Linked DNA regions of Homo sapiens: all the other regions are linked to region 3. Evidence: fine-mapped expression QTL. A gene starts in region 3. Each other region holds a variant in brackets. All regions are shown on one strand. Distances are between the middles of the regions.

Region 1 (2,759 bases), 200 kb after region 3:
ACTCAGGAGGCTGAGGCAGGAGAATCACTTAAACCCAGGAGGGGGAGGTTGCAGTGCAGTGAGCCGAGATTGTACCACTGCACTCCAGCCTGGGCGACAGAGTGAGACTCCATCTCAAAAAAAAAAAAAAAAAAAAAAAGAGATTTGGTCTTTTGAGGTAGTTTTGTATATTTTGTAGGTGACCTGTATTTCTTTTCATTCTTTTTTTTCTCCTCATTTCTCCTCTGTGTATTTTCAAATAGCCTGTCTTTGAGCTCATTGATTCTTACTTCTGCTTAATCCATTCTGCTGTTGAGAGCCTCTAATGAATTTTTCAGTTCAGTAAACGTATTTCTGTTTCAAGATTTGTGATTTTTTATACTTTATTTTATTTTATTTTTAAATTTTGAGACAGAGTCTCACTCTGTTGCCCAGGCTGTAGTGCAGCAGTGCAATCTTGGCTCATTGCAATCTCCGCCTTCTAGGTTCAAGCAATTCTCATGCCTTAGCCAACTGAATAACTGGGATTACAGGCATGCGTCACCATGCCCAGCTAATTTTTGTATTTTTAGTAGAGATGGGGTTTCACCATGTTGGCCAGGCTGGTCTCAAACTCCTGGCTTCAAGTGATCCTTCTGCCTCGGCCTCCCAAACTGCTGGGATTACAGGTGTGAGCCACTGCACCCAGCCGCAAGATTTGTGTTTTAAAAAACTGCTTCAATATCTTTGTTAAATTTCTCTGACAAATTTTGGAATTGCTTTTCCATGTTATCTTGGAAATTACTGAGTTTCCTTAAAACTGCCATTTTGAATTCTTGGTCAGAGAGTTTATATATCACCATCTTGTTAGGGTCAGTTACTGGTTCCTTGCTTTGTTCATTTGAGGCAGTCATAGCACTCTACTGGCTGCCGTTTCTTGTGGATGTATGTCTATGTTTTTGCATTGAAGGATTAGTTATTCCAGTCTTCTTTGTCTGGCTTGTTTTGGTTTTTATTGGGTATGTTTGCTTAGAGATTCTTTGTAATTTATCAGTTGATTTTCTTTCTTATGTTCCACTGCTAGGTTGCTGCCTCCTTTTTGGCACTAAATGGTGCCTTAAGCCCGGGTTTGCCCTGGTTCTATTAAACAACCAGAGTACCACCAGTACTGAATGGGGTAGGTCTCAAGGGGGAATATCCTGGT[A/G]ATATCGAAAGGCTGGTTAAGAGTTTATGCCCAAGGATATGTGGAACAAACCTACAGTGTGGTGCTGCTCTAATTTGGTGTCTTCTTTGGCTGAGAGCAGTTTTCACAGCTGGAGATGGTAGTCCTGCCTCCTCAGTTTCCTTAGGGTGATTTCTCCTTTCAAGCACTCCCAGTGCATCCTGTGGTTTGAGGCAGGGACAGGTCTCCTGACAGAGAACCAAGAGGGTGGGCAAGCTGGTTGTCCACCCCAACTCACTTTTTCCAGTGTAGAAACCATGCGTCAGGGGAAATTTTCTATGCATTTTGTGCTAGGCAGACTGGGGAAAGGGGTGTCACAGATATGGAAGTCCAAGTCTCTTACCATCTGCTTGGAGTTTTTTTCGCTTCTCTGAGGCCAGGAGAACTTTCTCATCTTCATATTTGAGTTATAATTTATTGCTAGTGATAATCTCAGCACTGTATATTTGATCTTGGTTTTCTTTGGGGTGAGTGAAGCCAGCTTGTTTCTACACCAGCTTGTTTCTACACTCGTTTCTGGTTCTGCCATTTCAGAACCAGAAGTCTCCACAATTTTAAATAGAGTGGTCTGTCTGGGTAGACTTTATTGGGAAGAAGACATGACAAAGAGAAAACTTGAGCAAAGATTTGGCCTTAAATGTGAATAGGCTTGGCATACTTGAGGAATGTTCAGAGAACAGTGTGGCTGGACCGAGGGAGAGAGGGTGAAAAAAGTGAGAAAGTTGAAATTGTTTGCTGTTGGAAGGAGAAAATTAGAAGCAAGGAGGGTTTGGGCAGAAGATTGCCTTTCATAAGTCATGTATGATCATTTCCTTTTTCAATTGTGGACATGTTAACTTTTGTAAAAATAGAGCTTAAACTTAAAAATTATAAATCACAAAATGCAATGTGATTTCCTGAATTGGAACAGAAAAAGAATGTTAGTGGAAAAACTGGTGAAATCTGAATAAAGGCTAGTTAATCATAATGTACCCTTTTTTTTTTTTTTTTTTTTTAGTTTTAGCAAGTGTACCATGTAATATAAGATGGTAACATTAGGGGAAACTAGGTGAGGGGTATATGATAATTCTCTGTATTATCTTTGCAACTTTTCTGTAATTTTTCTAAAATTATTCCAAAATAAGTTTATTTTTAAAAAGCCTTTAAAACAAACAAAAAATTGAATCAGCTGATAAAATGCTGCCTTTTCCCTTTCCCCAATTCCAAGCCTTGTACTCTTACCTGGGTTTTAGCAGTTGGTCATTATTAGGTAGGAAGATGTGATTTACCTATGGACCCGGGCTGATCTCCAGATGGAAGGAAAAAGGCCAGCAGGGAAGGCTCTGTATATCATATCTGTGGAGCATCCAGCTCACAGCTTCTTGGTGGGTGACATTCAGAAGCTGAGAAGCAGAAACCAAAACAGAGGCATTTATGCAGGGGAAAAACAAAACCAAAAACAAAACATTAATGTGTAATTCCCATAAGTTCTTAAGAAAGCAGAGTAACAAATATATCTTTGCAGGACTTTATTTCTTAATCTCTGTCTCTAGAACTCTGTAGTTATTTCTAATAATGAGTAGTTTCAAAGTAGAAATAA
Region 2 (2,759 bases), 190 kb after region 3:
GAGGAAACTAAGTCACAGAGAGAATAAATAACTTTCTCAAGGTCACCAAGTAAGTAAACTGGAGTCAGGTTCAAACTCAGGCAGCCTGACTCCAGGGCGCTTCAACCACAATGCTAATGGAATTATTCTAAAATGATTTTAAAAACAATCATTCATTTTCAAAATCATGGTATCGGAATGCGTGAAAAAAGACTTGCTATGGCACAGAGAACATTGTAATGGGGTAACCCGCCAGGCTAGGAATGACCCAGGTATGACCACTGGTCATGGCACAAGGCCCTTTCTGAGCAATATAGGCAGGGCAGAGCCTGCCATGATGGAAATCACAGTAACATCATGGAGGTGGCGCTGGTAAAAAAAAAACCAGCTCTGCCCGATGTGCATCGATTACAAGACCTGGTGGCGAACATATGTTTTACAGCCCTAAATTGCATTCGTGCAAATATTTATCATCCATCCCCTGCCAAATCCGCATAATGGAAAAACAAACCAAAGGAAAACCTCCAGAGGATGTGAAGGCTATATCAAGTCTCTTGCCAATTGTTGTGCTCTTTGGGCGTAATATATCTAAATCTTAGTAATTCCAGGATTTCCAGTAATCTGGAATATCCGCTACCCTGTCCTGAAAGCCCTCCTCCAGCAGTGGGCCGCCCAACTTGAGTTCGCTCAATTTCCTCTTTCACCTGCAGGTGGCAGCACGAGTGCCGATCGCTGTCAGGCGAGGGCGCTCAGGGGTGGGAGCCGAAGAGAGTAATTTAGGGATAGAGGTGAGAACGGAGTTAGACACAAAAGTAAGATCACATGAACTCCGACTTCGGATGGAACACATCATCCATTTAAACCCTCGAGCCGAGCTCAACTGGAAACTCCACCTAAGTAAGCGTCGTGGGCCCTGGAGCCCCGCGGCTCAGGGCAGGCCGGGGCGGGGCGGACGCAGCGCGGTTTGCCCGCCTGTGCGGAAGCCTCCGCAGTCCGCGGCTGGCAGGGCCTGGGGCGGTCTTTCGCGTGGGTGTCCGTCCCTCCGCAGCCGTACTGCCGGCGCCAGGGCCGGCTCTGCACATTTCGTAAGGCCTTACATGGCTGCACC[C/T]CCCCCGCCACCGAGGACCTGAGCCCGCCGGCCGCCCTCCCGCGCTCTCCCGCCTGGGGACTGCGAGCTCCGCGCTGCACCTCCAAGCGGGGGACGCCTGCGGACTCCACCAAGCTGCCTTCCCCCGTACTGCTGTCCCCTGTGGGAGCAGAGGAATCCGACCCAGGTCTGCAGGCGAGGGACAGGAGGCTTCTTTAGACCTGACAGGGTGCGGGTTATTTTGTCCCTCACCTTTCCTGCTCAGGGACCTGTCCTCCTCCGTCTCGTTCCATGCCTTCTCTCCTCCTCTTAAAGGATGCTAATCACATTCAAGCCAAAAGATTAGAGACTTTTCTGTGTCCTTCGTCAGGAATGCTTGGATTTGTTAGGAAGGGAACTGGATACAACTTCATGAGATATAAGGGTGTAATTTCAGACATGTGCGTTTCTTTCTAGGATTATTTAAATTACACCTCAACTCACAATCGGCTCATGCCTTACAACCATCTGTGGCTAAGAGGCAAGTCGGACTTCCTGGTAAACCCTCTTCTCTTAGGTGAAGCATGGAGCTGTGACCTTATTAACCTGAACAGCAATTGGGAGCCTCAAAATAGAAAAAGCAAAAACTCAGGAAAGTTTATTTATTTATTGTTAAGACAGAGTCTCACTCCATCACCCAGTCTGGAGTGCAGTGGCGTAATCTCGGCTCACTGCAACCTCCGCTTCCCGGGTTCAAGTGATTCTCATGCCTCAGCCTCCCGAGTAGCTGGGATTACAAGAGCCCACCACCACGCCTGGCTAGTTTTTTTTTTTTTTTTTGGTATTTTTAGTAGAGACAGGGTTTCGCCATGTTAGCCAGGCTGATCTCGAACTCCTGGCCTCAGGTGATCTGCCCGCCTCAGCCTCCCAAAGTGCTGGGATTACAGGCATGAGCCACCATGCCTGGCCAGAAACTTCTTTAATCAACATTGATTTTCCAGGAATAGAAGTTGTATAATAGAGAAAGCAGCACCTGAGTAGGGCCTTAGAGTCTAGAAGGTGCTTTCAGTTACAGGCTTGGGAGACACCCATTACTCATATGGTCTTCGATAGGTAAGTATTAATCCCTGGTGTTTGTAGTCATGATAATTACCACTTGTGAACAATGTAGCTGGTGTCCATTGTCCTCCACCAGTACTGCAAGACAAAGAGTCATTAACTAAGTAGATGACACACTCCTCTTAGTTTACACTCCGTCCCACTTGCCCCCCACCTCCATGAAAGCAGGTATGATTATTCTCCTGTAAAATTATTTTTCCTCCTACTTTCCTGACCTGAATTCAACTGCCTTTCTGTCTGCTCAACCTTCTGGTGAAGATTTCTGCCTCTGCCCCTCCCCATCTCACCTTCTAATTCCTACAGACTCCTCCCTAGATTGACCACCCGGGAATGACTGTCTAGATTATACATTATGAAATTTGATTATAGTTGATTAAACACATTGTTAAATATTGCCCTGACTTGTTTTCATTCTACTTTCTGAAAGTATAATCTGAACTAGCTGTGAGCTTTGAGAGAACAGGAACCATATTGATTAATCCTAGGCTTAATAAGATGTATTAAAAAGAGACAATAAATATTTAACAGTTGAGTATGAAGATGAAACTTTATTGATGAGAAACAGGAAATGTCATCCACTCAATCTTTCCATTAA
Region 3 (2,759 bases):
CTTTGTGTTGCCTCTGTGGTAGAACCTTGATATAAAGATCTACAAATGGACAGGGCAGAGGCCACTAATTCCTTGACCTTGAGGTGAGCCTCTCCCCAGCGACCAAAATGTGAGGACAGTTAATACCTTACTTGATACACCGTGAAAGGGACGAAAAGTGACCACAGCAGTTCTGAGACCCAGGAGGCATCTGACACCGTCTGAGGGGAGGGCATGAGATGAGGCCTAAGCCAGGGCCAGGGATGGGAAATTTCCCCTTCAAGCCCCAGAGATTCCCTGTTCAACACACACTCACCACAGAGACCAGGGGTCTCTGAACTTGCAGGGTAAGAGGTTGTACCACATCTTGGATAGAAAATGGCCAGGAACTAGAAGAGGAAGGAGAAAGTAGGATGGGAATCCAGCCAGCCTAGTCAGCAGCTCACACCTGCCTTATAACAGGCAACTGTCAAACTCTACAAGCACATAATTGAAGAATGAAGGGATTCAGGAGAAAGAACTTAAAGTGGACAGAAAGGAAATGAACTGGAGATGATGGGGTCTAAGGGCCGAAGAAAGTTGTAAAAACTCAAGGGCCCACAAGCTTGACCACCTACCCAGCTGGCGCCCCATACCTGTGCTAAACCCACCTGAAGCGCAGGAGCCCCTCCCGGCCATTGGTGGCCTCTTCCTCAGGGAATAGCAGCAGAGGAGTGGGGGGAAGCCTCGTGGAAGCACAGAATCTCTTGAGTGACTCCACCAACTCCCCCCGCCCATTCATCTCCATGAAGCCCCGAGACCAGCACACAAAGCTGGGGGGACTATTGAGTAGAGGCTGGGAACCAGGAGAAGAGAAAGCAAGAAGAAAAATATTGAGGAAAATGAAAAAAAAAACTGACATGTTGGGTAGAGGATCGGGGTTAGGGGTAAGGCTCAGTATCCTCCATGGGGAACGCGAGTGGGGACAGGGGGGCCTTCAGCTGGGCCCCAGGGAACCGCCCCGTGGCGCTCTCGGCCTCGCTCTCACTCACGGTGCTACAGGTGGTAAGCAAATTGACTATGTTGTGGTCGAAAGGTGTCACATGGTTGGAAATGAGGACCCTGACACTGTGATCCCGGAGTCCGGAGTCCTCCTGCCGGGCCACGAGCCCTAGCACCGCACACATGGTCCGCACTACGAATCTGGGGACACAGGAGGTGGTGACTGTGTGGCCTCGGGCCAGACCCAGCTCTGACACTCCCCGAACGCCCGCGTCGGAACCTGCGAAGGACGCTGTCTGGCAGCGCGCAGCTGACCAGGAAGACGTGGATCCCGAGAAAGAGGCGCAGGACGAGGAGGCAGAACCCGACTGGCGCGTAGAGCAGCAGCACGAGCAGTAGGAAGCAGTCACCCGGAAGCCTGGGGGCGAGAGGCGAAGTGGTCAGGCGCCGAAGGCCGAGAGCACGCGGGGATCGGTCTCTTCCCGCCGGGTCTCTTACCGGTGCGAGTCAAAGAGCCGCTCCGGCCCCGGCCCTGAGGGAAGCTCCATAACTGCTGCTTCAGGAGCGCCCGGCCGTCGCCGCCGCCGCCATTTTCGCGCCCGGCCGCAGGGGCTCTTGGGAAGGCGGAGTCTTTGGGCATCCGCCCGGGGTGAGGGGACCCGAAGTCCTGAGGCGCGCCGGAAGGGCTAGCGGTCCCAGCATACCCCGCGGCCCCTTGGGCCGTCTCACAACTCGCGTCCGGCGGAGACCACAATTCCCGGCATTCGTGGGGCAGGGAGGAGTCGGCCTCCCGGAATCCTGGTCCCGGCGTGCACTTCTGAAGGACTTCAGGTACCGGCGTGCCCCGCGTCCTACTGTCCGCCTGCTCGCGTCCTGGGTGCCGCCTCTGAGTAGGGCGGGCGAGGAGGCAGCCAAGGCGGAGCTGATGGCTGCGCCGAGGGCGGGGCGGGGTGCAGGCTGGAGCCTTCGGGCATGGCGGGCTTTGGGGGGCATTCGCTGGGGGAGGAGACCCCGTTTGACCCCTGACCTCCGGGCCCTGCTGACGTCAGGAACTTCTGACCCCCGGGCCCGAGTGACTTATGGGACCCCCAGTCTCTGGGCCCGGTTGTCTGTTGGGGTCACTGAACCCCGAGCATGCCTGACGTCTGGGACCCCGGGTCCCCGGGCACAACTGACTGCGGTGACCCCAGATACCAGGACCCGGGAGGCCTCAGAGAACTCTGGAACCCGTTCGCGCGCGTGGCTGGCGGTGGCGCTGGGCGCTGGGGGGGCAGTGCTGTTGTTGTTGTGGGGCGGGGGTCGGGGTCCTCCGGCCGTCCTCGCCGCCGTCCCTAGCCCGCCGCCCGCTTCTCCCCGGAGTCAGTACAACTTCATCGCAGATGTGGTGGAGAAGACAGCACCTGCCGTGGTCTATATCGAGATCCTGGACCGGTAATGGTGGGGGTAGACCGGGAGGCACTGAAGCCACAGGCTGGAGGGCGGGCGGGTAGGAGGGGTCAGAGCCTCCTCTTATCTGTGCTTTCCCTCCATTTCAGGCACCCTTTCTTGGGCCGCGAGGTCCCTATCTCGAACGGCTCAGGATTCGTGGTGGCTGCCGATGGGCTCATTGTCACCAACGCCCATGTGGTGGCTGATCGGCGCAGAGTCCGTGTGAGACTGCTAAGCGGCGACACGTATGAGGCCGTGGTCACAGCTGTGGATCCCGTGGCAGACATCGCAACGCTGAGGATTCAGACTAAGGTGGGGGCTGGGGTAGGCCAGGTCTGGTTGGAGCTGCTTATTTGCTCGCATCTTCAGAT

Which allele goes with the higher level. Positions count from the first base shown, and alleles are read on the strand shown. Sizes are in standard deviations (SD) of each study's normalised expression.
For the expression in gastroesophageal junction of the gene that starts at base 1,585 in region 3, allele G in region 1 goes with a lower level than allele A (moderate effect, 0.73 SD a copy in GTEx).
In carriers of allele C in region 2, the expression in cerebellum of the gene that starts at base 1,585 in region 3 tends to be higher than with T alone (large effect, 1.6 SD a copy in GTEx).

What was found. PIP is the estimated chance that this variant, and not a neighbour inherited with it, causes the effect.
Region 1: its variant is fine-mapped to the expression of AUP1 in gastroesophageal junction (GTEx, PIP above 0.99).
Region 2: its variant is fine-mapped to the expression of AUP1 in cerebellum (GTEx, PIP above 0.99). The same link has a PIP of 0.9 or more in caudate, prefrontal cortex, spinal cord, tibial artery and unexposed skin.

What each region holds. Positions count from the first base shown.
Region 1 is chr2:74,729,584-74,732,342 of GRCh38, forward strand. All of the region lies in intron 2 of LOC102724497 (a long non-coding RNA gene), which reads left to right. Among named protein-coding and RNA genes, the nearest start is that of SEMA4F, 77 kb to the left of the region's middle. The variant A/G (reference allele first, on the strand shown) is at 1,163.
Region 2 is chr2:74,714,500-74,717,258 of GRCh38, forward strand. LOC102724497 (a long non-coding RNA gene) reads left to right here and starts at 800. Exons shown (of 3, transcript XR_427047.5): 1 at 800-876. RefSeq lists a silencer at 927-1,186. The variant C/T (reference allele first, on the strand shown) is at 1,088.
Region 3 is chr2:74,528,122-74,530,880 of GRCh38, forward strand. AUP1 (AUP1 lipid droplet regulating VLDL assembly factor) reads right to left here and starts at 1,585. Exons shown (of 12, transcript NM_181575.5): 1 at 1,459-1,585; 2 at 1,241-1,378; 3 at 1,011-1,161; 4 at 630-814; 5 at 296-368; 6 at 127-200. The coding sequence starts at 1,508. It overlaps HTRA2 (HtrA serine peptidase 2), which reads left to right and starts at 1,812. Exons shown (of 8, transcript NM_013247.5): 1 at 1,812-2,391; 2 at 2,496-2,700. The coding sequence starts at 1,886. RefSeq lists enhancers at 1,029-1,858, 1,031-1,913, 2,369-2,498, 2,519-2,588, 2,619-2,698 and 1 more and a silencer at 1,889-1,978.